Linked DNA regions of Homo sapiens. The protein of the gene in region 2 interacts with the protein of the main gene of each other region in a pairwise test. Each region holds a gene or a part of one and is shown on either strand. Other genes may lie near its edges. The genes, in order: PHF5A, PRPS1, DCAF1 and FAHD1.

What was found.
Region 1: the proteins of PRPS1 (region 2) and PHF5A interact in binary tests that used the Homo sapiens proteins (3 or more experiments, as listed by UniProt).
Region 3: the proteins of PRPS1 (region 2) and DCAF1 interact in binary tests that used the Homo sapiens proteins (3 or more experiments, as listed by UniProt).
Region 4: the proteins of PRPS1 (region 2) and FAHD1 interact in binary tests that used the Homo sapiens proteins (3 or more experiments, as listed by UniProt).

The regions. Positions count from the first base shown.
Region 1 is NC_000022.11:41,459,192-41,465,697, reverse strand, and holds the end of PHF5A (PHD finger-like domain-containing protein 5A), read left to right. Parts: intron 1-5,210; coding exon 5,211-5,300; 3' UTR 5,301-5,981; downstream 5,982-6,506.
Region 2 is NC_000023.11:107,624,670-107,631,524, forward strand, and holds the start of PRPS1 (ribose-phosphate pyrophosphokinase 1), read left to right. Parts: upstream 1-3,840; 5' UTR 3,841-3,959; coding exon 3,960-4,081; intron 4,082-6,855. UniProt on the Homo sapiens protein: Catalyzes the synthesis of phosphoribosylpyrophosphate (PRPP) that is essential for nucleotide synthesis.
Region 3 is NC_000003.12:51,412,998-51,420,027, forward strand, and holds part of DCAF1 (DDB1- and CUL4-associated factor 1), read right to left. Parts: coding exon 6,737-7,030; intron 5,880-6,736; coding exon 5,681-5,879; intron 5,202-5,680; coding exon 5,119-5,201; intron 3,875-5,118; coding exon 3,790-3,874; intron 1,861-3,789; coding exon 1,627-1,860; intron 1,047-1,626; coding exon 953-1,046; intron 390-952; coding exon 285-389; intron 70-284; coding exon 1-69. UniProt on the Homo sapiens protein: Acts both as a substrate recognition component of E3 ubiquitin-protein ligase complexes and as an atypical serine/threonine-protein kinase, playing key roles in various processes such as cell cycle, telomerase regulation and histone modification.
Region 4 is NC_000016.10:1,823,168-1,829,420, reverse strand, and holds FAHD1 (oxaloacetate tautomerase FAHD1, mitochondrial), read right to left. Parts: upstream 2,216-6,253; 5' UTR 2,192-2,215; coding exon of another isoform or gene 2,183-2,191; coding exon 1,517-2,182; 3' UTR 511-1,516; downstream 1-510. Other genes in the region: HAGH (hydroxyacylglutathione hydrolase, mitochondrial isoform 1 precursor), read left to right, coding at 2,634-2,709. UniProt on the Homo sapiens protein: Tautomerase that converts enol-oxaloacetate, a strong inhibitor of succinate dehydrogenase, to the physiological keto form of oxaloacetate. It is thereby required to maximize aerobic respiration efficiency by preventing succinate dehydrogenase inhibition.

The DNA.
Region 1 (6,506 bases), on a different chromosome or scaffold from region 2:
ATGCTGGCCAGGTTGGACTCAAACTCCTGACCTTGCGATCCACCCATCTGGGCCTCCCGAAGTGCTGGGATTACAGGCGTGAGCCATCACGCCTGGCCTTATGTTGTCCTTTTACAAGTGTTTCTGGGATGTGCCCATGGTGAAGGCAGTAACGCCAGTACCTCATTTCACGCACTTGGATCCTGCCTACCCCCAGTAAGTGGGAGAGATTGGGCCAGATAAGACCACACCATTGGGCCAGGCACAGTGGCTCATGCCTGCAATCCCAGCACTTTGGGAGGTTGAGGCAGGTGGATCACCTGAGGTCAGGAGTTTGAGAGCAGCCTGGCCAACATGGTGAAACCCCGTCTCTACTAAAAATACGTGGTGGCACACATCTGTAATCCCAGCTACTTGGGAGGCTGAGGCAGGAGAATCGCTTGAACCCAGGAGGCAGAGGTTGCAGTCAGCTGAGCCGAGATCACACCATTGCACTCCAATCTGGGCAACAAGAGCGAAATTCCTTCTCAAAAAAAAAAAGTGAGTACACCATTGAATCTTCTGTTGTTTAGGGAGATGAGAAAGGTCCTGAAGTACCAAAAACATAATGATTTGGACCTTTCTCTTGTCCTCAACTCTGATTTGCATTTACCTTCAACTATCAAGTCACATTCTGCTGTCCGAAAATCCAAATCTAGTCTACTAGCTAGATTACACTTCATTAGAGGCAGGACTTTGGTTTGTCTATTTGCCTCTCCTTTTCTTTAGGTCATGATACAGTGCCTGACATGCGGTGCAAGCATGGTACTTGTATTTTGGTGCTGTCCCTGTAAGTCATCCAGAGGTATCCCCTGTAGGGTGTCTAGCACATAGTAGGTGTTTGTTAATTACTTCTGGTCTATAAGCAGTGAAAGCATGATAAGGTAACAGCAGTGAAGAAAAGTAACAAACAGTTCCTAAACTAGATACAGGATATCTGTTTAAGCCATTTAAGACAGCATTTTCTTGAATTTTTGCATGGGTCTAGCTAGAGTTCTTATGTAGCGTAAGCTTGCAACCAGAGAATGCTTAATAAATGTTAATTGCTGTCTGACTCCTCTGAATGTGGTGTGTGAACTGATACCTTTGGATCCTCATGCCTCATTCTGTCCCTGAGACTTATTCTAGATGTCACTTCCCCTACTTCACATTATACACGAATGTTCTGAGGACATTTGAGATGGAATCTAGCTCACATTTTCAGCACTAGTTTCCAAGGAACACAAAGAAGTCCAGTGACATGATCCAGGCTCTCAGCCTTACAGATCATCATGTAGATTAAGTGGCCGAGGCTCTTTCCTATGCAGAAACCTTCCTACAACCAAGGTACCCCTTGTTATTATTGTCTTCCTGCAACTTTCATAATTGATAAGGGAATTAGACAGGTAAGCTAAGCTAGGTATTCTCATTTATAATTTTTCAAAGCCACAAGAATAACCAGGAGACAGGGATGATGTCTATGGACATTGCTACCAGAGGACTGATTTGTAGGTTCTTATGGTGCCACATCATGTAATCCCCTTAATCTTGATTCCTTTATTCCTTTTGTTTACCATTTTCCTCAGTTCGCCCAACCAGAAAATAAGAAAAATAGCACTAACATTTATGAAGCTCTTAATATATGCAAGGTACTTAGCTGAACATTGTTTTCCAAAAGTTCTGTGTGATACAGATGAGGATGCTAAGGCTTAGAGATGTTAAGCAACTTGGTTAGCCCAAGGTCACGTGGCTAATAAGTGACAGACCCAGGACTAGGGCCTAGGTGGTCTGACTCTTTTTTTTTTTGAGACGCAGTTTCTTTCTTGTCACTCAGACTGGAGTGCAATGGCACGATCTCGGCTCATTACAATCTCCGCCTCCCAGGTTCAAGCGATTCTCCTGCCTAAGCTTCCCAAGTAGCTGGGATTACAGGCACATGCCACCATGCCTGGCTTTTTTTTTTTTTTTTTTTTTTTGAGACAGAGTCTTACTGTGTCTCCCAGGATGGAGTGCAGTGGTGTGATCTTGGCTCACTGCAACCTATGCCTCCTGGGTTCAAGCAATTCTTCCGTCTCAGCCCCCTGAGTAGCTGGGATTACAGGCGTGCACCACCACGCCTGGCTAATTTTTTGTTTTTAGTAGAGACAGAGTTTCACCATGTTGGCTAGGCTGATCTTGAACTCCTGACCTTGTGATCCACCCACCTTGGCCTCCCAAAGTTGCTGGGATTACAGTCATGGACCACCGTGTCCAGCCTAATTTTTGTATCTTCAGTAGAAATGGGGTTTCACCATATTGGTCAGCCTGGTCTCAAGCTCCTGGCCTCAGGTGATCTGCCTGCCTCGGCTTTCCAAAGTGCTGGGATTACAGGCGTGAGCCACCACGCCCGTCGTGACTCAGTGTTTCTTAACCTTTTATTTTTTTTTTCTCATCATTGCACCCCTAAGGAGAAAGGTTAAAAGTTAATGTAAATTAATTAAATTTTGGGGCTGGGCAGGAGCCTACCATCTTAAAGCTAAGCTGTAAGTAGGCCAGGGGCAGTGGCTCACGCCTGTAATCCCAGCGCTTTGGGAGGCCCAGGTAGGCGAATCATGAGGTCAGGAGTTCGAGACCAGACTGACCAACATGGTGAAACCCCATCTCTACTAAAAATACGAAAACCAGCTGGGTGCGGTGGTGGGTGCCTGTAATCCCAGCTACTCAGGAGTCTGAGGCAGGAGAATTGCTTGAACCCAGGAGGCAGAGGTTGCAGTGAGCCCAGATAGCGCCACTGCACTCCAGCCTGAGCGACAGATGAGACTTCACCTCAGAAAAAAAAAAAAAAAGCTAACCCGTAAGTAAAGAACAGAGCTGTGCAGATTGGAGGATTGGGTCATACCATTACTTGGTACCTTCCAGGAATATTTGGGTATCTATAAGGATAGTTTGTAAACCTTGACCTGATCCAGTCTTCTTCTTTTGCAGCTGAGGAGTAATATAAGTCCCAAGAGAAGCAACTTGCCCACATTTGCACAAGTCAGTAAGGCACAGTTTAAGCTATCATCATATCATGAGTTTCATAGCCTCTCTAAAGAGTTGAGAGTCCTGTTATTATGTCTAATATCAGGCCTTTGTCCAGGAGAGGCAGCTAGTGCCTCATTTTTACGAGGACATGAAATATAGATTACGTTGCTTACTTGGGTTCACCTAGCAAGCTATTGGTAGGCGGCTTCCTTGGTACACCAGGCTTCAGAGATGGAAGTGCTCAATGTAATGACTCGATACTTCTTTTCTAGGAGATCCTAAAATGTTAGTGTTAGTTGCAGAGATTTTTGTAGTTGTTGATGTCTGCCCCCAAAGAAGGATATTAGTTGAGTTAGAAATGAGATGGCTAAGGACTTGATTAATTCATACTATCACCTAATATCACAGGACTCAAACTCTGACATGGGTGTTTAATAAAATCAACAGACCTGTAAGGGTTTTCCAGTTACAGCTTCCCCGGTTTTTCTCCCATCATCCCTAATCAACTGATGGAGTCATCATTTCTATATAACACAGCTTCCCAGGGGCTTCACTGAAAGCACTCAAGCTCATCAAATGGCCAGGGCAGCCTGTCATGACAAATTAGTGCATGGTCTGTCAACAGCCATCTATCTCTAGCCAGTAGTGCTCTGTACCCCCAAGACCATGTGTCAAATTAAGTGAATTAATGAAGACACATAAAACCCATTAGTCTCCTATGGTATTTAAAATGTAAGGGCCAGGCACGGTGGCTCACGCCTGAAATCCCATCACTTTAGGAGGCCGAGGTGAGTGGATCAGGAGGTCAAGAGATCAAGACCATCCTGGCCAACATGGTGAAACCCCATCTTTACTAAAAATACAAAAATTAGCTGGGCATGGTCGCGGGTGCATGTACTCCCCACTACTCGGGAGGCTGAGGCAGGAGAATTGCTTGAACCCGGAAGGCGGAGGTTGCAGTGAGCCGAGATCATGTCACTGCTCTCCAGCTTGGCAACAGAGCAAGACTCCGTCTCAAAAAAAAATAAAATATAAGGTATGGCCGAGCACTGTGACTCACGCCTGTAATCCTAGCACTTTGGGAGGCTGAGGCAGGCGGGTTGCCTGAGCTCAGGAGTTTGAGACCAGCCTGAGCAGCATGGTGAAACCCTGTCTCTACTAAAATACAAAAGAAATTAGCCGGGCATGGCGGCGTGTACCTGTAGTCCCAGCTACTCGGGTGGCGGAGGTTGCAGTGAGCCGAGATCGCGCCACTGCACTCCAGCCTGGCGACAGAGCGAGATTCCTTCTCAAAAAAAAAAAAAGAGTTTCATAGTCTACCTCAACTGTGTCATAGCAGCAGACATGGCTGAGAATCCAGCATTCTACATGAATTGCAAGTCATTGGATAGAGGGTAGGCAGGCCCTGAGCACATTCTTAGGTGTTTAGTAAATTATTGATGATAGATCAAATAGGATAATTGGTAAGATAAATGGCTAAACCATTAATCCAAAGGTTATAAAATGGTCTTTTTTTCTTTTTTTGAGATGGAGTTTCTCTCTTGTTACCCAGGCTGGAGTGCTGTGGCGTGATCTCAGCTCACTGCTACCTCCGCCTCCTGGGTTCAAACGATTCTCCTGCCTCAGCCTCCTGAGTAGCTGGGACTACAGGCACGCACCACCACGTCTGGCTAATTTTTGTATTTTTAGTAGAGACGGGGTTTTACCATGTTGGCCAGGCTGGTCTCGAACTTCTGACCTCAGGTGATCCACCTGCCTCGGCCTCCCAAAGTGCTGGGATTACAGGCATGAGCCACCGTGCCCGGCCTATAAATGATCTTTCATAAGTGCTAAGAGATAGGGAAGAAACAGTGCTGATCTGGGCCTCCCAATTAAGGAGATAACTGGTGTTTGGACACATTTACAAACCCATTTATTGAGTTCTTCAAATACTAAGATGAGAATTTGAACTCTGTGACCAATTTTTTTTTTTTCAAGAGATGGGGGTCTCGCTATGTTGCCTACAGTGGGGTACAGTAGCTGGCTATTCACAGGCATCATCATAGCCCACTAGTCTCGAACTCCTGGGCTTCAGCAATCCTCCTGCCTCGGCCTTCGAGTAGTAGCTGGGACTAAAGGCACATGCTACCACACTGGGCTTAAATTTTTTATCTTAAGTCACTCTTGGTTCAGGCTCAAAGACTTAACAACTTCTCTGTTCTGTTTTCCAGAGAGATGGCTGCCCAAAGATTGTCAATCTGGGGAGCTCTAAGACAGACCTCTTCTATGAACGCAAAAAATACGGCTTCAAGAAGAGGTGATTGGTGGGTGGCCCCTTCCTCCCCCCAACATCAGTCTGCTGCAGCTGCCAGAAAACATGCCTACTACTACCAGCAGAAAGGGAGCAGAGCCCAGAGCATCACCAGGAGTGCCTGCTAGTGTACTGGCAGCTTGCCACCCCCTCCTCTCCCTTCACCCAGACACGTGGTAGGGATGGAAAAGGATTCTTCACAGAGCACTCTGGCACACCATATCGGAGAAAACTTGATAGATTAGTTAATGGTTTTTCTTGAATTCGAGAAGCAAAGATCTGTTCTCCATATTGGTATGTTCTCCCTCAACCAAGATCTTCTAAAAAGAAATAATATTTTAGTCTTCTGCTTGAGGAACTGACTGTGAAGCGACGCCCAGTGAAAAACATGTTCTTGCAGCAGCTCTGGTGGCAGCTGTCCTTGAGGAACCTTTGGTGTGTGGTGGGAAGCTATCAGAACAAGAAATGTAGGCATTTCCCGTTTTTTTTGGGGGGGGGGTGGGGGGGCAGGGCTCTGCCCTCTTGAAAGGCATTTACTTGTTTAACACTTGTCCAGCTACAGTGGGGTACAGTAGCTGGCTATTCACAGGCATCATCATAGCCCACTAGTCTCATATTATTTTCCTTTTGAGAAATTGGAAACTCTTTCTGTTGCTATTATATTAATAAAGTTGGTGTTTATTTTCTGGTAGTCACCTTCCCCATTTAACTTTAACTCTAGGAATTTATTTTAGTCACCCAGGAATTTGTGATTCAAAACAGAGGTAGTGGGATTGGTTAAGTACTTTGTCCTCTTATTACCACTGGAAGGAATTCAAAACCACCCATACCTTTCATTATAGATAGATCAAAGTCATCTTTAGAAACGTACTATTTTTTCCTTCCTGTCCAACTTTAATTTTGAACTGAAGAGATAGCTTCCAGTTATGGTGGAGGCTGGGCACAGTAGCCCATGCCTGTAATCCCAGCACTTTGGGAGGCTCAGGCAGGCGGATCTTGAGCCCAGGAGTTCAAGACCGGCCTGGGCAACATGGCAAAAACCCATCTCTATGAAAAATATGAAAACTAGTCAGGTATAGTGGCATGCACCTGTAGTTTAGTCCCAGCTACTCAGAAGGCTGAGATGGGAGGATCCCTTGAGCCTTGGAGATTGAGGCTGCAGTGAACAGTGATCCCGCCACTGCACACCAGCCTGGGTGACAGAGCAAGACTGCCT
Region 2 (6,855 bases):
CATCAATAGACTTGCTCAATAGAGGGTTGCCATAAACCTTCAAGTTGTAAAAAATGCAGTATCTGCAAAGCACAATAAAGCAAAGTGTGATAAAATGAGGAATACTTGTGGCTGGAGAGAGGATCTATAGTGGTCATAAAATTCTCAAAGGGGTCCATAATCTCTAAAAGGACCCCTTTTAATTTAATCTGAGATTTTAATTTAATTAATTTAATTTTAATTTAATCTGAGATTAGTGAATCTCAGATTCACAATGTCTTTATCATTCCTCTTCTTAAACCCTACAGCTACTGGCATAGTTAATGACATTACTAACTTGCTCTCCCAATCTGGTTTGCCTGCCTCCAATCTCTTCTCTATTCTTCACCCCACACAGAAAAGTTTACCTAAAGCACAGTTATGATCGTGTCATGCTCTTACTCCAGAACAGTCAATGGCTTCCTATTGCCTGCGGAATGAAGTCCCAATATGGTACTTGATATTCCAGCAAAACTAAACTATTTTCTCTTCTTCAAAACCTCTCTCTGCTTCCTCATCTTTTCTTCCTGCCTGGGAGATCCACCTCCTCTCAATCATTGCCTGTCAAAACCCTACTCATCAATCAAGGCCTAGTTCATGTGCTTCTACCTCCAAAAATATTTCCCAGGATACTCCATGCAGAGGTGATATCTTCTACCTCTGGACCTGCAGAGCATTTTGTTTGGGCCTTATGGGAGACTTCTAGTTGCATACCCAAAATTCATTCTCTCTTCTTTCTGGGAACAGGGCCACCTAACAAAACATTTCCTAGTCTTTCTTGCAGTTAGGTGCGAATTGTGACTGAGCTCTTGCCAAAGGGATGTGAGAGAAAGTGGGATGGATAAATTTCATCTCACTTGCTTAAAAGGAAATCCCTTGCCTAGACCTCTTCTCTGAGCTAGAATGTGGATGTGTCCATGACCTAGCATGGAGCAGAATCATCCCACTGGCTTAGACCAGCCAGCCTGTTATGCAAGAGAGAAATAATTTGTCTTACTAAAGCCGCTATATTTTAGAGTCTCCTTGTTACAGCAGCCTCCACATTATCCAAGCACAGGCTTCTCTATGGTAGCGTATTACATTGTCTGTGCTTTGTAATTATTTGTATAAATGTCTTATCAACTTTCTTTGGAAGTTAACTCCTAATCGGTCTTCCTGCTTCCTATCTTGCCTCCTACACTCTGTTCTCAGTAGCTGGGGTGATCTTTTTAAAAGGGAAGTTAGATTATGTCACTCTTTGCTAAAAATTCTTACTCAGTTAAAGCAAAAACCCCTAAAATAACCTATAAGGTTCTGCATGATCAGCACTCTCCCCACAATCCCTTTTTTTTTTTTTTTTTGGAGACAGGGTCTCTCTCTGTCACCCAGGCTGGAGGGCAGTGGCGCGATCTCGGCTTACTGCAATCTCTGCCTCCCAGGCTCAAGTGATCCTCTCATTTCAGCCTCCCCAGAAGCTGGGACTACAGGTGCTTGCCACCATGCCCAGCTAATTTTTGTATTTTTTGTAGAGATAAGGTTTTGCCATGTTGCCCAGGCTGGTCTGCAAATCCTGAGCTCGAGTGATCCGCCCGCCTCGGCCTCCCAAAGTACTGGGATTACAGACATGAGCCATCGTGCCCACCTGAGTCCCCCAATCACTGTTTTGTTTTGTTTTGTTTAGACAGAATCTCACTCTGTCGCCCAGGCTGGAGTGCAGTGGTGCGATCTCCGCTCACTGCTGCAACCTCTGCCTCCCAAGTTCAAGTGATTCTCTTGCCTCAGTGGGACTACAGGTGCCCACCACCACGCCTGGCTAATTTTTGTATTTTTTGTAGAGACGAGGTTTCGCCACGTTGCCCAGGCTGGTCTTGAACTCCTGAGCTCAAGTGATCCGCCCACCTCGGCCACCCTGAGTGCTGGGATTACAGGCGTGAGCTACCGTGCCTGGCCGGCCTCCAATCACTCTTATCTCATTGACCTCACTTTCCTCCTTTTCTCTTATAGATACATTCCACCTCCACCACACAACACTCGTCCCGCATTGGTATTCCTCAAACAAGCGAGATACATCTGCCTTAGGGTATTTGCCCTTTCTGTTCTCTTTGCTTATCGAGATATCAACATGGCTCATTTTTTTGTTTTTTTTTTCCTCCTTCAGGTCTTTGCCCAAATGTTACCTTCCAAGACAGGTCTTCTCTGACCACCCTACTTAAAATTGTACTCCTCTCCTCTACACTCTGGCACATTATCCCACTTTCCTTGCCTGATTTTTTTTTCCACAACACTTATTGCCATTTGACATACTATGCATTTTGCTTATTTACATGTTTATTGTTTGAGAATGTAAACTCCATGACAGCAGGGTATTTTTAATTGTTTACTAATGTATTCTTGTGCCAATACACAGGGCCTAGCACATAAAGAATGTTCACTAAATATTTATTGAATGAACGAATCCCTTGGGGCAAATACTTTGTAGTCCCCTCAACGCCTTGCACACTGCCTTGCATGCAATAGAACACTCAGTAAATATTTGATGAATGGCCTATGATGGAAGACTACTAATATTCTGCCTTGCAGTTTACTTCCTTCTCCAAGTATTCCTATATACATGGGCCTACATTAAATTTCTGAGCTTGTAAAAGTGCAAAAAAGGTCAGAAGGAGAAGTCCTCCATGGACACTGCTGAAAATAGCAGTAAGACAAAGACAGGATGCTGCTTTGAGTATTTTCTGCCTTTGCCACTTAGATAAATCCCTCTCCCACCTCCATCTCAGTTTTATCATATGTAAAACGACTATATGATCTCTGAGGTCCCTTCTATTTTTACATTTGGTAGTTATGAGCACTATGGTCACTTTTGATTCCAGAATTGTATGATTTTTATCTTCTCCTAACCCATGCTTAAAATATGCTTAATGGAAACATGGTGCAAGAATAAAGGCTCACTTAGGTCCAATTAACAAGTATCGCTATAAAAATAATAAAACATGGTGTAAAAGGCCACATTAGCAACATGTAGCTGATGACATTGAGGCTTACATGAGGCAGACAGGACTAAAACCCAGGTTTTTTCAAATCCCTTCAGGGCTCTTTATCTGAAGTCCCATAGAACACTATACTTTCTTTCCTTTCCGAGGGCTATAAAAGTTAGATCTTTATTGTCCAGATAGTTTGGAAAATCCATCTTCCTTCACTTGTTTCAACATACTTGGTTCCAGCACTAGAAACAAAACAACTTTCTCTTGCAGTGTCTCTTGGATGATTCAGGTGGCATGCCTTCAGTCACTTCCCCCATGTAAACTGTCTTGCAGGCAAAGGCGACACTGCAATTACAATGGGCAAGCAAACTCCTTGCATGCACGTCTGTGATGTAAAAGTGTTTTAATTCAGCCCCATCCTTATAAAGAGATAAAAAATGTGTTCAGAAACATGCAAACTCGTGGCTGTCATCCTGATAAACAGATTTTCTTAAAGGAAACTGTAAACCAGAGCCAGACTTACTTTCCTGCGCTGAGGGAGGGGAAATAAAAAAGCAGGCATGGTTGATTTCCCGCTAGCGGGAACGATCTGGCCTCAGACGTCACCAGCATCCCTCCACCCCCAGTCCAACGTCTCCTGTCCCCAACAGCCTAGCTACAGGGGGCCGGGCTATGGGTTAGTCTCGCCCCCGTTCATGCTCTTCACCCAATACCTGAGAGAATCGGAAGGAGGCAGAGCTACACCGAGGACCAAACCCCGCCCTTCGCTCCCTCTTAGCTAATCGTTGCCAGCGGGGTGTGGACTTCGCCGCTGACCCCACCTCCGCCGCTTTGGGTAATTTAGAGCCGCGCGCCGGGCGGGAATGTAAGATGGCGGAGTAGCAACGCAAAGCGCTTGGTATTGAGTCTGTGGCCGACTTCGGTTCCGGTCTCTGCAGCAGCCGTGATCGCTTAGTGGAGTGCTTAGGGTAGTTGGCCAGGATGCCGAATATCAAAATCTTCAGCGGCAGCTCCCACCAGGACTTATCTCAGAAAATTGCTGACCGCCTGGGCCTGGAGCTAGGCAAGGTGGTGACTAAGAAATTCAGCAACCAGGAGACCTGGTAAGGACCAAGTTGGGACCCTGACTAGACCTCACCTGCCCAGGCGGCAGAGTATAGGAGGGATGGGGTCGCCGCTTGAGCTCAAACAGACTGGGGGTTGGGGGGAGAGGGTGCAGCTCTGTGACTAGCCTACCCCACGGGCTGTTTCCGTTATTTTACCTCTCGCGGGAGGGTCACGTTCATTCTTACCGTGCGGTGGGGTGGAGTCAAAAGATGGAGTGTGAGGCGAAGCTTCTGCGTTTGAGGGCAAGGGCTGGGGGACCCAATAGATAGTGGCTGCATAGAGCGACGAGAGGGGACCGACGCTTAGCCAGGGCGGTAGGGACACGTGGCTTGGCTTTGCTGTTGAGCCACCCAGGCTGGACTGGGTTGCTTCAGCTCTTAGACTAGCTTGCATTTAGAGAGCCTACCTGCGTACTGAGCTCTCCTGGTCTTTCTTTTCCTAGAGTCCAATAAGCAGCTTTTTGATTCGAAATGGTGTTGGTCCGTTCGGCTTGGTGTTGAGGGAAACTGACATTATATACTGCAGGCGCCAAAATTATTACGACTTCCCTTAGATCAGCAAGCGTTGGCTTTTCTCATCTTATGAATCATCTACCTGAGTAATTGGAGCCATAAATCTAGTTGATTTGTTAAAGTGATGCGTTGACTCTGCATCCTTGATAGCCAGCATCTCAGCTTGAGCCATCCAAAAAATCTTGGAAATCTCAATTCTGGAATGTTTGACCTTCCCCAGTGCAGCTAGTGGTACAGATAATGCAAAAGCGTATTTTTCAGTAACCGAGTCCATCCTGGACTTGGCTCCTTCTTTAAGCTCTGTGTAGGGAATTTAGGAAACAATTTTATACCTGAATGTTAAAGATAATTGAGGACAGGCAATGTAGTGGAAGACTAGGATTGGACAGTGCATTGCAACTTGCGTTTTTTCCATTGCCTTGCCAGTAAAACTTGCTTCCTCGACTCCGACTTACACCCTCTACCGGCACCATGGGACTGTTTTAGAGATGACTTGGTTACCTGATTATTTCAGTGCCCCTTCCACCTAAGTGTGGGATCTTTAGTTTCTGATAGGTGTAATTTGTATTTTATTGTTACCCTATCGATTAAATCAGAGCCCTGCCCACAATCTTACAGATTTGTTAAGGGGAAAGTTTTCACCTAATAATCAGATAAGAATATTTCGAATATTTTTTCCTAAATGTTTTTGCTTACTTTTTTGCTTTCTTTGGACTGATTTCCAAGTTTAACTCGCCTTATCTCTTTTAGACCCAGCTGATAAAGTAATGTCACCGATAATGGACAGCTTCTTCCCGAATTATTGTGCTACTGATTGTGATGCAAATGATAGTGTAAACATTGCCATCTGTAACCAGGCAATACCTTAGTTAAAAGAGGCTTACAAACTGCTGTCTTTAGATTTTTCCAAACCATTATGGCTCATGGGCCTTAATAAAGAATACAAAACAGGACTAGACTTTGTGATTGGCAATATAGTTAGGGGACAAGAATGTTTTTCATTTAGAGGTTTTCTTTGGCCCCTGTGGATATTTAATCCTTTTCCTATGCGTCTAGGAAAAATGTGAAGGCATGAAAGCTTTATTTTCTCCTTGTGTTAATCCTTCTGCCCTCTGCATAATGCAGCACCCCAGAACCTGAGGCTATATTGGGAGAGGAGAGGGGGAGGACAACTTAGTTTTCTACTGATTGATTTCTATTAAGTCCAACATGGATAATTGCTGACTGGTTAGATTTTCTTGTTTCTGGCTTAATCATTAGCTTCTTGTTTCCTAGATATTCTGAAATCTTCATTGAACATAATCACATTTTTTTTTATGGAGTTCCCCCTATCTTTGTTTTTCCTATACTGAAGAAATGGTAACTGCTCCCTATAACTGCTCCCCCAGGTGACTCTTGGTTGATGCTCTCTTGAGCAGAGTAGCTTTTCTTCTAACATAAGGATCATCCTTGGCTGTCTGGTTATTTAGGAAACACACACACACACACACACACACACACACACACACGGAGGGGGTGGGTGTTAAAAGTGCTGAAATCAGAGAACTTGGATCTGAATCCTTAACCTTTCTTTGCCCCAATAATCTAATCTGTAAAGTAGTACCTACCCATACTGTTGTTATGAGGATTAAATGAGATAGAAGTAAAGTTCTTAGGATCTTGTCCAAAACATAATAAGTACAACAGTAAATGTTGACAAGAAGGGGTGGTGATAATATTGCAGAAAATGTGGAAAATTTAGAACACGGAAGGGAGAAGATATGCCTCTTAATTCTGCCACCTGACATAAATGTCACATTATCATTTCTGACCTCCCAGATATTTGTGTAAGATACACTTTTTCAAGAATGTTTAATACATTTATAGCTCTCTTCACTTAGCAATATATTTTGAACAGTTTCTCCCTTTAATATTTAGTATATATGATTTTCTTTTTTTATTATTAAAGATTTTAATTTATTTTTTAGAGATGAGGTCTCACTATGTTGCCCAGGCTGGAGTCCAATAGCTACTCACAGGCACAATCATAGCACACTGCATCCTCAAACTCGCGGGCTCAAGTGATCTGCCTGCCTCTGCCTCTCAAGTAGTTGAGAATACAGGCATGCACCACTGAGGTGGGCTAGTTCATGTAATTTTAAATAGCTATATAGTCTTACCTTATGGTTATGCCATAATTTTATATAACCAAATTCTTATTGGACATTTCCAGTTTTTGATCTAATGCTTTTATATGAAAATCCATGAACATAAATCTT
Region 3 (7,030 bases), on a different chromosome or scaffold from region 2:
TGACAGCAAGATAGCAGTCTTTGGTGTCTGTACACAGGTCAAAGATGTTCCGTTTCACATCAATGGTTGCTGGAAAATAGAATGTGAGAAGATTGGGATTGGACTATTGCTGTGACCCTAAAACCTGCTTTTCCTCTAAAGGAATTCAGGATGATTGCTCAAAAGTATTTCCATAACTTCTCTGTTTTTCAATAAAAAATTACAGGCCTCCAGAAAATGAAGGATCTTAAATAAGGAACACCAAAACACGACAAAATGTTCAATGTCTGTCCCTTTCTGCTTACCTATAGGTTTGTAGTCAGTTGCATTAAATGTTCGGAAGGATGACCCAAAGGGGCTTTTCATCCTCTCTTCCATTAAGTCATCTTCATCATCTGCCTGCAACATAGCTTGAGGGGGAGTGGGGGAGGAAACACTATTAGGAATCACAAACATCCCCTCTTCACAAGTGCAGAAAATGTTAATGGCCAATCAAAACAATCTACTTGCATATAGGTTTACATACAAATTCCCTTGTACAGAAATCTACTCTGCATCTAGTTAGCTCCTCTCAGAGCATCTTCCTTGCATATCCCACCTATTGTGACAAATAATATCCTCAGCCTCTCATCTACCTCCAAGAAGTGTTACTGTACTTACAAGGCTTATAACAACACAAGAGGACAAATGCAAAAGCTCTTAAGTTCATAATGATACACTGGAAAATACTGCATGAAATTTCTTTCCATACAAGATTTCCTTGTTATCTTCAAAGTAAGCTGCCTTTCACCCTAAACCAACATTATTTTCATATCTTTTGTCACCATTCATACTATCAATTTTTTATCTTTTATGTTACAACTCTCAAATGCTTTCCAATTCACAAGTGAGAGATGGTTCCAAAAAGAAGTATCAAATTAAGTGAAGGGGTAGAGCAAAAGGAAAGAGAATAATGAAGGATAAGGTTTATTACCTCCATACATCACTGTTCCCGTGTGATTGAACACCACGCGACACTGATCCAGAGCGGGAACAGTATGCAAAAGATGAAAAGTTCGAAGGTCCCACTAGGAGGGGAATGGTCAAGGAAAACTATTTTACACAAAACTTATCTAATCTCATGGGAGGAAATTCTAAAATATCACTTTTTTTCCTCCTGCCAGGTATTGATACTTTAAAAGTCAATGAGATCAAGGTAAAACAAATACATGTAGAATGCATATTATTGAATGATGTCTCTGAAAATATCCTAGGGTATCCTCATATACAGGAATGCTTTATGAGCTCTTTTCCTCCCAACAGTAGTACTTCATTTTCCTCTTATGTGGCAACTGATTTTTTACAGAGCAAAAGTAAAATCCTTCTGAAGACAGATAAAAGCTAATTCAATTCTTGGAGAACTGGGAGGTAGGAAACTGGTCACTCTTACCAAATACATAGAAAACATGCTAGTGAAAGTTGTCAGTAATTACTAACATTGGCAACAGTGCTTTGGAGATTTCACTAACATTTCAAACCAAAGGACAGGCACCATATTATTACCAGTGTGGACACTTTAACCAGGTATTGGTATAAAGATAGAACAAATTATTTCTGCACCACAAACCAGACAACAAATGGAAGGTAAGACATGAGTATAAAGGATACAATCTCAGTATTAATGATCACCTCCAGTCCATTTGGATGGAAAACACCACTGATGTTCATATTGAACTTGTCAAACTTGTGGATGGCCTGTGCAGAGCGGACATCCCAGAGGACGCCATCATTTAAGACAAGATCATCTGTAGGATTAAAGGTGGCACAGTTCCTCTTGTAGTTGTTGGCAAGATCTGGGTTAAACAGAGTCAACAGCTTGTTGCCAGTCTGAATATCATAAATCTTTAGAGAAGAAGGGATGGGAAGAGAAAAATCAGACCAATCCATCCACTGACAAATTAAAGAGAAAATGTGCAAAGCAGTTTCTAAAATTAACACACAAATTCTCCACATGGATCAATGATTACCACAGAATACTGCCTCCCAAAGTGCTGGGATTACAGGCGTGAGCCACCGCACCCGGCCAGGCACCTCTTTTTCTCGGGGTTCCATTCTGCCTTACTGGCCATTATATTTGATTTCCTTCCCAAGTTCCTCATTTGGCAACTCCTAAACACATGCCAGGGTTCTATACCCACAACTCTTCTCTAGTCCCCTTGATGATCTCATATAAGTTCATGGCTGTAAATACTATCAGCTGGGGACAGTGACTCATGCCTGCAATGCCAACATTTTGGGACACCAAGAAAAGTGGATCACTTGAGCCCAGGAGTTCGAGACCAGCCTGGGCAACGTTGGGGAAATGCCGTCTCTACAAAAATACAAAAAAATTAGCCAGGTGTGATGGTGCTCGCCTGTAGTCCCAGCTACTCAGGAGGCTGAGGTAAGAGGATTGCTTGAGTCCAGGCAGTCAAGGCTGTGGTGAGCTGTGATCGTGCCACTGCACTGCAGCCTGGGTGACAGAACAAGACCCTGTCTCAAAAATAAATAAATAAATAAATACTGTCAATATGTGGACAAGTCCCATATTTATATTTCCCAACCCACACCTCTCTCTTGAACTCCCAATTTTTTGTTGTTTTTATTTTCAGAGACAGGGTCTCACTTGGTTACTCAGGCTGGAGTACAGTGACATAATCATAGCTCACAGCAGCCTCCAACTCATGGGCTCAAGCAACCCTCCCGTCTCAGCTTCCTGAGTAGCTGGGACTATAGGTCCCAAGCCCACCAAGCTCAGCCAATTTTGTTTATTTTTTGTAGAGATGGGGGGAGTCTCTCTATGTTGCCCAGGCTGGTCTCGAACTCCTGGCCTCCCACCTCAGCCTCCCAAAGTGCTGGGATTACAGGCAGAAGCCACTAAGTCTGGCCAGCTCCCAACTTTTGTATTCAATCCCCATTCTCTACTTGAATGTCTAAGAGAATCTCAAATTTCATGTGTCCAAAATCCCAGGGCCAAGGTCCTCCATTTCTCATAGCCTCTACCATGCCTACCCAGGCCCAAACCCACAGCTCCTCTCATGTGTCAGGTGGTACAACACCCTCTGACCTGGAAGGCTGCTCTTGCTTCTCTCACAAAAACCAGAGTCACACTTCAGGAACTTTACATCCACTCATGTATCCTCTACTCACCCACCAGTGTCTTCATCTCACTCAAAAAAAAAGCTAAAGGCCCTAACTACCACCTACAAGATGCTACCAGATACAGGCCCCTCACTGACCTCAGCTCTCCTCCCACCTCCCAAGCAAGGGCTTTTCCCTTGCCATTTCCTGTGCCTTACGCTGTTCCTCCAGGTATCTTCCTGAATCTCGCGTTTCCTTCAAGGCTCTGCTTAAACATTACCCCATCAGTGATGCTGTCTACCCTAGATAAAAGAGAAGTCCCCCACACCACCACCAAGCATTTCCTACCTCTTACCCTGCTTTCATTTTCTCTGAAACACTTACCACCTAAATTTACCGTATATTTGCTTCTTTATTGTCTCCCCAATGAGGGTCCATAAAGGCAGGGGTTTCATTTCTAATCTAAAACTTACTAAGAATTCAAAAATATCTGTGGTGCTAATGACATCTTTCTCAATGTCACATTTAGCCCTTATACATTTTTCCCATACAGCTCAGAACTATATTATCATACTTTTAGATTCTAACTAGAAGGAATATCACTGATTTCTAGTTGCCCAAAGGACTTAGGTCCTCACATTCTATCAAGAAGATTTCAGTATGAACAAATGGGTATGATCAGCTTGAAAACAGTGGTTCTTAAGTACTTACGTGGGCAATGTCTCCTTTTGTGCCGATGACCCGATCCTGGGAGTGCTTACTGAACTCAACATAGTGATCTTCTGTGAAGGAATGCCTATGGACAAACAACAGGAGCACTGAAGTGACAGATCTTCAGGACATATTCCTGCAACCAACTGAAACACAGGTGACCCCCAGCCTCTTGCACAATCACACTCACCTAAAGATCCTGGACTCCCAAAGAGGAAACAATCATACACTTAGATTACAAAGAAAATTCCTTCTATCACCTTAACCAAGCAGATACAAAATAATGAATGGGAATTCCTTAGAGAAATGACAAACAGGGCACATGTGCCTTTGAAACACGCAGCAAAGGGGCCAGGCATGGTAGCTCACTCCTACAATCCCAGCACTTTGAGAGGCTGAGGCAGGTGGATTGTCTAAGCTCAGGAGTTCGAGACCACCCTGGGCAACATGTCGAAACCCTATCTCTATCAAAAATGCAAAAAATTAGCCAGGCGTGGTGGCATATGCCTGTGGTCCCAGCTACTCAGCAGGCTGAGATGAGAGGATCACTTGAGCCTGGGAGGTGGAGGTTGCAGTAGGTCATGTTTGTGCCACCGCACTCCAACCTAAGTGACAGAATGAGACCCCGTCTAAAGAAGGAAAGAAAAGAAAAGGCCAGGTGCGGTGGCTCAGGCCTGTAATCCCAGCACTTTGGGAGGCCAAGGCCAGCGGATCACAAGGTCAGGAGATCAACACCATCCTGGCTAACACAGTGAAACGCTGTCTCTACTAAAAATATAAAATATTAGCCAGGTGTGGTGGCGGGCGCCTCTAGTCCCAGCTGCTCGGGAGGCTAAGGCAGGAGAACGGTGTGAACCCGGGAGGCGGAGCTTGCAGTAGGCTGAGATCGCGCCACTGCACTCCAGCCTGGGCGACAGAACGAGACTCTGTCTCACAAAAAATAAAAAAAAGAAAAAAAAAAGGAAAGGAAAGGAAAGGAGAGGAGAAGAGAGGAGAGAGAAAAGGAGGGGAGGTGAGGGGGGAGGGGAGGGGAGAGGAGAGGAGAGGAGACACAGCAAAGACTGCAATGTCCTATGTGAACATGGGAAAATACATAGATTCTGGGTCGGGGTCTGCTGCATAATGAGAATGTATATACCTCATAAAAGTATCTAGGAATTAAGAAAGATAAAGTCTTATTAAACATGAGTCTTAGATGAGGAAGAGAGAAGTTAACAATAACCGACAGCATCCTCTTTCCCCAAAAGGCTTCCAGTCTAAGAACCAAATGAAGGGGGGTATAAACTAGGTAAATAAAGCACAGACTAGGTTCCAAAAGCAGATACATACTTCATATCAAATACTGACTTCATTCCCCAAAGTGCAGACAAAGGCTGGCTCCAAGTAGCAGATGTCAGCAGCAAGGACCCATCCTAAAAGAAAAAGGCGCAAGGTGGGTAACCACGTATTTACATACATGCAGATGTCACTACCTGCCATTAGCATTTTTAAAGATTTGCATAAAAATGTTGTTGAATTAAAGAGACAATTTTATAATCCCCAGAAACCAAGAAATGGTCAGAAGCCACTAGGATTTGAATACATACACCTATAGTGTCCTATAAAATAACCAAACTTAAGAGAATATTAAATCCTACTGAACTAGCCACAAAAATAGAATAGATAAAAGGGAGGGGGGAAAATGAGAAGATGTCAAAGATGGTTCCTTTCTTCCTACTAACTTTGCCATATTCCTCAGTCTCCATCTGAAATATGAATTAACCTCAACTAGACTTTCCAGTTGAGGACTCATTTAAAAGAGAGAGCTCAATAAAGGGTAAGCCTCCTTTACTCTAGTTCACCAATTCATCTTGGAAGAATGACTGAGAGCATCCTAGGAAGGAACCCTTACCCTGGAAGGTTCAAGATGTGTGATGGCTGAGTTGTGACAGTTATAGCTGGCCTCCTCCTGTCCACTAAACACATTATAGAGCTTCAGCTGCCCTGTGCAGGTGCCAAGCATCAGGAACCGCTCCCGTGCTGAGAATGCACAGCAGGTGAAGCCACTCTCATCTTCATTGGCTTCCCGGAACACTGAAATAGGACGGAATCTAAGCAAAAAAAAGAGAGAATCACAGGCAAAGAATGTGCAGGGACTCAGAAAAAGCAAACTGCTAGGATAGAAGAAAAAGCACAGAACATTAATGTTTCAAATGGCTTCTTCCAAAATCACAGTGACCTTCAGTGCTTTTTATTTTAAATAAGAAAAAGATTTCCACTTACAAATTTAAATAACAAAAATTCCCATGTTTAGGCCAGACACAGTGGCTCATGCCTATAATCCTAGCACTTTGGGAGGCCGAAGGGGGGGTATCAATTGAGGTCAGGAATTCAAGACCAGCCTGGCCAACATGGTAAAACCCCATCTCTACTAAAAATGCAAAAATTAGCTAGATATGGTGGTGCCTGCCTGTAATCCCAGCTACTCAGGAGGCTGAGGCAGGAGAATCACTCGAACCTAGGAGGCAGAGGTTGCAGTGAGCCAAGATAGCACCACTGTACTCCAGCCTGGGCGATAGAGAGACTCCGTCTCCAAAAAAAAAAAAAATTCCCATGTTTAAAACCTGTGATCCCGTAACCTTTATGTAAGATTTGTCAAGAATCAGAACAGGAAGCAACTTGCACCAGCACAAGTTTGGGAGCCTCCTTATGGACAGTAGTAATGAGGGGGTGTGGGTTCTAGAAAACATACTAGTTGAGATGAGAACACAAACGATTATATCAATATACTGCCAACAATCACACAAGGAACCCATGGTTGACAAAAGGTGGTACAATTACATTGTTCAAGTATTACACAAAGTAACAATCAGTGGTATTTCAGGACAACTATGCTGATACTGCCCAGTTTGATTTAAATAAAAGAATCATTCCAATTCCCAGGGAGTAAGAAGGGGCCTCTTCTTACCTGCTAAAGATAAGGTGCCTATCAAAGCATCCGCCATCCACCCCTCCATACTTTGGAAATGATGCCCTGCGGTTTAGCCTTGACGTAAAGTTTATTGGCGCTTGCCGCCTCTGTTTTGGCTCAGGACATTGGTGAGGAGTAAAGAGGGAGAAAGGTGGGCAGGTGGCAACTGGATTCTTGCAGCGAGCATGTTGTTCTCTAAGATACTCTGTGATTATACTGTCCAGCGTAGGTGGGGAAGGAAGATGTCTGTCCAGCTGTTTTTTTATGGCTGGGCTTTGGCTGTAGGCACCA
Region 4 (6,253 bases), on a different chromosome or scaffold from region 2:
AGCCTCTAGATCTGTCTTCATCTGAGTAATGGGGATGGTAGTGATCATACTAAGCTTATGGCTTGGTTGCTGGTTACATAACACGTGGAAATACAGAATAAACTGCTTGGCATGGTGCCTAACAGTACTGTGTTCAATACATGGGGACCGTTACTACTCAATCAGATGTCCTAGGCTTTCTTCAGGGGCCAGCAGATGATGTGAACGCGAACAGGAACCCCTGCCGAAGCCCAAAGGACTCCTCCAGGCATTGACAGCTATGCTGTGCATCTTGCCTGGATGTTTTTTCAGAGGAGGGTGCAGGCAAGAGCAAAAGCAGCAGTCCCAGGCTATTCAACTTCCACAAAGCCTCCTTATCTCCGGTTGGGAAGTACAGTTGCTGATTAACTGTGTTAACACAGCACAGTGCTCAGAAGGCCAAAGGTCAAAGACTAAGGTCTGAAGCCCCACAAGGAGGAAATATCCCTCCTCGTCATTACTGGGGGGAAAAAAATTACCCTTGTAAGCCACTTAGAAGGGAGCACCTTTATTTGGAAAACAGTAATTTCAAAATCATCTCCCGAACTCAGAATCGATGGGTCTGGGTAGATACCCTAAGTAAACAGGTGAAATCTTCATTACTTGTTCACTTATTAAGTAAAATTTTAAATTAACCGATTATGTACAGGAGTGTTTTTCACATTTCCTGATAAGAATCACTTGGAATGCCCTGTAAACACAGCTTCACTGGAGATTAATCCTATCAAATTGATTCAGCAAGTCCGAGATGGGCCAGTAATTTGTGGAGATTTTTATTTTTACAAATGCTTCCTGATGATGACCAAATCTAAGAAAATTTGGTAAACAACGGAAAGTTATCTGGAACATAACTTTCAGTTTTCTCTGCAGTTTTTAAGTGCTGAACTACTGATCATCCTAGAGATAACCCACTGAAAAGTCTTCTCTAATCCAGTTTTACAAAAGGAAAGTCTTTTTAACATTTGGTTTGATAAAATGTTTTCCGAAGAAATACTTTACTTGCCTGTTTTCATTTCTGGCCCACCCGTTCTACTTCACGTTTTCTTGAAGGGTTCATCTTCTATGAGTTGAGGCATAGCAATCTAATCATTTTTAAAATAAATGGTTTCTTTTTTTTTTTTTTTTTTTGAGACGGAGTCTCGCTGTTGCCCAGGAGTACAGTGGCGCAATCTCAGCTCACTGTAAGCTCCGCCTCCCGGGTTCAATTGATTCTCCTGCCTCAGCCTCCAGAGTAGCTGGGACTACAGGCGCCCGCCACCACGCCCGGCTAATTTTTTGTATTTTTAGTAGAGACGGGGTTTCACCCTGTTAGCCAAGATGGTCTGGATCTCCTGACGTCGTGAGCCGCCCGCCTCGGCCTCCCAAAGTGCTGCGATTACAGGCGTGAGCCACCGCGTCCGGCCAATAAATGGTTTCTAATTAAAGGATTGTGACATTTAATAGCCGTTGCTTGCTCTTGTCTTGCTCCCTTCTCTCTCGAAACTTGTTAAGAAATAACTCAATATTCTGGCTTTTCCACTTTAAATGTCATACTGACCAGCCCGTGTATGCCAGCCTCGATCTCATCGTTTTCTTTAACCGGTCCAACTCCCTTTGGCGTCCCAGTCAAGATAATATCTCCTTCTTCCAAGGTTATGATCTTAGAAACATAGCTGATGATGTAGGGGATGGAAAAAATCATGGAGGATGTCTCACCCTCCTGTCTGAGTTCGCCGTTGACCTTGAGCCAGAGCTTCAGCTTGTGAGGGTCAGGGATCTTCTCCTTGGGCACGAACGCGCTGACCGGGCAGGACGCCGTGAAGCTCTTCGCCAGAGTCCAGGGCAGCCCCTTCTTCTTGCACTCGTCCTGCACGTCCCGGGCGGTCATATCCAGGCACAGGGCATAGCCGCCCACGTAGTCCATGGCCGCAGCCTCGGGGACTGCGCGGCAGCGCTTGCCCATCACCACGCCCAGCTCCAGCTCGTGGTGCAGGTTGCGAGTGTACGCGGGCATGAGGATGGGCGAGCCCTCGGGCGCGTAGGCCGTGGACGGCTTCAGGAACAGCACGGGCTCGCTCAACACCGCGCTGCGCATCTCCCTGACGTGGTCCGCGTAGTTCCTCCCCACGCAGACGATGTTCTTTCCCCACTCCCAGAAGCGGGACAATGGCCTGGATGCTGCCATGATTCCCATCAAGTGCCCCTGTAGTCACGTGGGCTGGGCCGGTCAGCTGATGCCTACGGCATCCCGGAGAGGACCAACTGCCTCGGAACGCTGTCCCCCGCAGCGACGGCCCGTTCCACCTCGCGATCTGCCGGGTACCCGGGCGGCGTGGCGCTCGGCCTCCAGGGATCCACTGTGCGGTGCCAAAAAAGAGGCGGAGGCTCGCGGCACAGCTCTCCCGGCGCAGCTCTCGGGCCGCCGCCGCCGCTCCCAGGCCCGTCTCCCGGCCCGTGGCAGTCGGGGCTCGCGGACAAAACAAGTTGAGCGCGAGCGCGTTGATTGGTTGGCGGACGGTGCGAGGTGGACGCTGATTGGCTGAGGGCAGCGCGAGGCGGGCGCTGATTGGCTGCGACGCGCCGACGCCGGTGTTTTGCAGTCCTGGGCAGCTCGGCAGTCCAGCCCGGCCCGGGTCATGGTGGTGGGCCGAGGGCTGCTCGGCCGCCGCAGCCTCGCCGCGCTGGGAGCCGCCTGCGCCCGCCGAGGCCTCGGTGGGTGCGGCGGGGCGGTGCGGGCCGGGGGACGCGGGCCTGGCGGGGCGGGCAGCGGGCGGCGCCGGGCCGTCGTTTGGCGACCGCTGACGCGGTGTCTGTTGCGCAGGTGCCTAAGGCCGCGCTGCCGGGCTCGAGCGGAGGCGGCGCAGGCGCTGAGGCTGGCGCGGAGCGGGCGCGGGGCCGCGGGTGCGGAAAGCGCTAGGTAAGCAGGGCCAGGCCTGCGTCCGCCGCGGCCTCCACGCTCGGGCTGGGCCGGCCGCGCCCCTGACGCCTCCAGGGCATCGCGTCCTGCCCGGGCCGGCGCCGAGGAGAGCCTGGGGCGCGGCTCTGAGGCGCAGCGGGCAGGGCCCCGGGACGCCTGGCCCACCCCGCACCTGCTGCCCCGCTGCAAGGACCGCGGTCTCGCGGCGCCGCCTGCGGTGGTGGAGCTGCCCGCCCGGCGCCGGAGCCCCCGTCTGGGGACCCGGCGTGTCATTCGCCCGAGGTGGTCGCGCGGCCGGGCCAGGCCAGCGCCCCGGGCGGGTGCGCAGCGCAGGGCACTGGGCGGGCGGAGGCGCAGACAGGGAGGCGTCCCTGGCGGTTTCCAGATCTCGCCGAAAGCTGTCAAGGCTCTGCAGGGGGTAGAATGTCGCCATTGCTAAGGAAAGGACATGGATTTTGAGGTCCTCAGAATTACAGTTTTAGGGACATTCATAAGGGTCCAGGCAGAGAGTTCCAGCGGGACTGTGTGCATCGGCAGGGCGTGCGTACCCCATTCTAAGGGAGGCCCCAGCCCCCGTATTTGGTGCCGCCCAGTTCAAGGGAAGCAAGATGCTGTGAAACTTCCTGATTTAAAAAAGAAGTGCAGTGACGCACGCCTGTCATCCCAGCACTTTGGGAGGCCGAGGCGGGAGGATCGCTTGAGTCCAGGAGTTCCAGACCAGCCTGGCAACATGTTGAGACCTCATCGCTACAAAAACTAAACAAAATCAGCCGGGCGTGGTGGCACACAACTGTAGTCTCAGTCACTTTGGAGGCTGAGGTGGGAGGATCGCTTGAGTCCAGGAGGTCGAGGCTGCAGTGACCCTTGATCGCACCACTGCACTGTAGCCTAGGGGACAGAGTGAGACCATATCTCAATTTTTTTTTGTTTTTGGGGCCAAACCGAACATGTTTCTGGACTTGGTCCAGGCCCCAGGCTGCAGGTCCTTGACCTGTTTGTACAAAGTATTACAGTTACAAAACAGCAAGCCGGGAACATTTGCCAGGCAGTGCTGGGCTGAGTGATATGGAAAGGGAATACGGTTTCTGCTGGTGTTGGCACCAGCTGCGTCTTTCCTCAGAAATAAAGGCACCTCCCTGGGTTGTCAGCTTCTTCAGGAGGCTGTGATGGTCTCCAGGGGAGGCTGAGCACCAGTTGTAAATGACATTTTCTTCGCCTGGGCAGTGCAGTGGCCAATCTCGGCTCACTGCAACCTCTGCCTCCCGGGCTCAAGCGAGTCTCCTGCCTCAGCCTCCTGAGTAGCTGGGACTACAGGCGCTCGCCACCACGCCCAGCTAATTTTTGTATTTTTTAGTAGAGACAGGGTTTCACCATATTGGTCAGGCTGGTCTCGAACTCCTGACCCCGCGATCCGCCCGCCTCGGCCTCCCAAAGTGCTGGGATGACAGGCGTGAGCCACCGCACGTGGGCAGTATTTTTGTTTGTAATGTTCTGCTCCTTGTTTGTAATGGAGCTCCTTTCCAGGAGGACGCCCGGCACTCGGAATCCTGTCACAACCCTTCTGCACCCCACCTGCAGCCCCCAGCACCCACACTCTGCTTGTTGTGCTCCTTGGGCTGGGGTGGTGCTGAGGCTAAGGGGAAGGGGAATAACACAGGAAGCTGCTCATATAGAAATCTTGGTATTATTGTTCCTGAGGAGAATGATCTGGAAAATGCCCAGCTGGTTGTCAGGCGGGTAATAGGATATCTTTGTGCAGTGATTGAAACTATAGTTTGGGCAGTTTCCCCGGCTGTGGAAATAAGGTCGGATTCCGCATTTCGGTGGGCCCTGGAGACGCGTGTGTCTGTCAGTTGGTGGCTGCTGCCCATTTCTGGATCCCTTTTGGGAGAAGCCCCTGCCGTGGCACCTACCCCAGGACTGCACTGTCCTCTGCCACCTTCTGTGGTTTCTTCCCCGTGTAGAGCGGAACTGAAGGTATTGTCGGGGCCCCCAGGTATTTTTAGATTTAGTAGGAGTTTCATTGCTGAAAATATTTTTGCATTGGTCGACTGGGTGGCAGACACTTTTGTCCCTTGGTCACCCACTCCTCCCAGCTCTTGGGCCTTCTGGGCCCCTGTGGCAGAGTCCTTTGGGTCAGTTGGATGGTGGTTTTGTGTCCTCCACACTTGAATCTGGGGGCAGTTGTGGCCAACTTTCCGTCTCAAAGGAACTGCTGATTTTTGTGCATATCTCAGATTCGTGCTGTTCAAGAGCAAGTATTGTTTGTTTGTTTTTTTTTTTTTTTGAGACTGTCTCACTCTGTTGCCCAGGCTGGAGTGCAGTAGGGCGATCTTGGCTCACTGAAACTTTCACCTCCCGGATTCAAGCAATTCTCCTGCCTCAGCCTGCCGTCAAGTATTGGTTCTTTCTGGCTAGAGGCTGAGAAGGGCTGTAACTGCATGGAACGCAGGCTCGCTTAGTCAGTGGTGGCAGCACAGCTTGCTGGAGGGCAGATGGCCAGGCGGGGGCACCCCTAGTCTGTGTTCCCTTCTTCACATTCTGTCCCTGAGTCCGGGGTGTGAATAATCCAGCACTGGCAGTGGTTCGCCTCACAATCACAAGCTGGCCTTCCTGTCCTTTTAGAGTTCTCAAAAAAGAAAATAGAGATCGTAAGTCTGAAACAATTGATTTCCATGAATGTGAGCATGAGTTAGTTCCTGTGTTCTCCTCAGGGATATATGAAGATATTCCTTTTTTTTTTTTTTTTTTTTTTTTTTTTTAAGGAACAGGTTATTGTCTTGTCACCCAGGCTGGAGTGCAGTGGCACAGTCATAGCTCACTGCAGCCTCAAACTCCTGGGCTCAAGTGATCCTCCTGCCTCAGCCTCCGGAGTAGCTGGGACCACAGGCATGCACCACCATGCCTGGCTAATTTTTAAATTTGCAAAGACAAGGTCTTGGCTGGTCGCGGTGGCTCACACCTGTCATCCCAGCACTTTGGGAGGCCGAGGTGGGCGGATCACAAGGTCAGGAGATCGAGACCATCCTGGCTAACACCATGAAACCCGTCTCTACTAAAAAATACAAAAAATTAGCCGGGTATGGTGGCGGGCGTCTGTAGTCCCAGCTACTCAGGAGGCTGAGACAGGAGAACGGCGTGAACCTGGGAGGCGGAGCTTGCAGTGAGCCGAGATCGCGCCACTGCACTCCAGCCTGGGCGACAGAGCGAGACTCCGTCTCAAAAAAAAAAGAAAAAAAAAAAGACAAGGTCTTGCTATGTTGCCCAGGCTGGTCTCAAACTCCTGCCCTCAAGCAGTCCTCCCATCTCAGTCTCTTAAAGCGCTGGGATTCCCGGCAA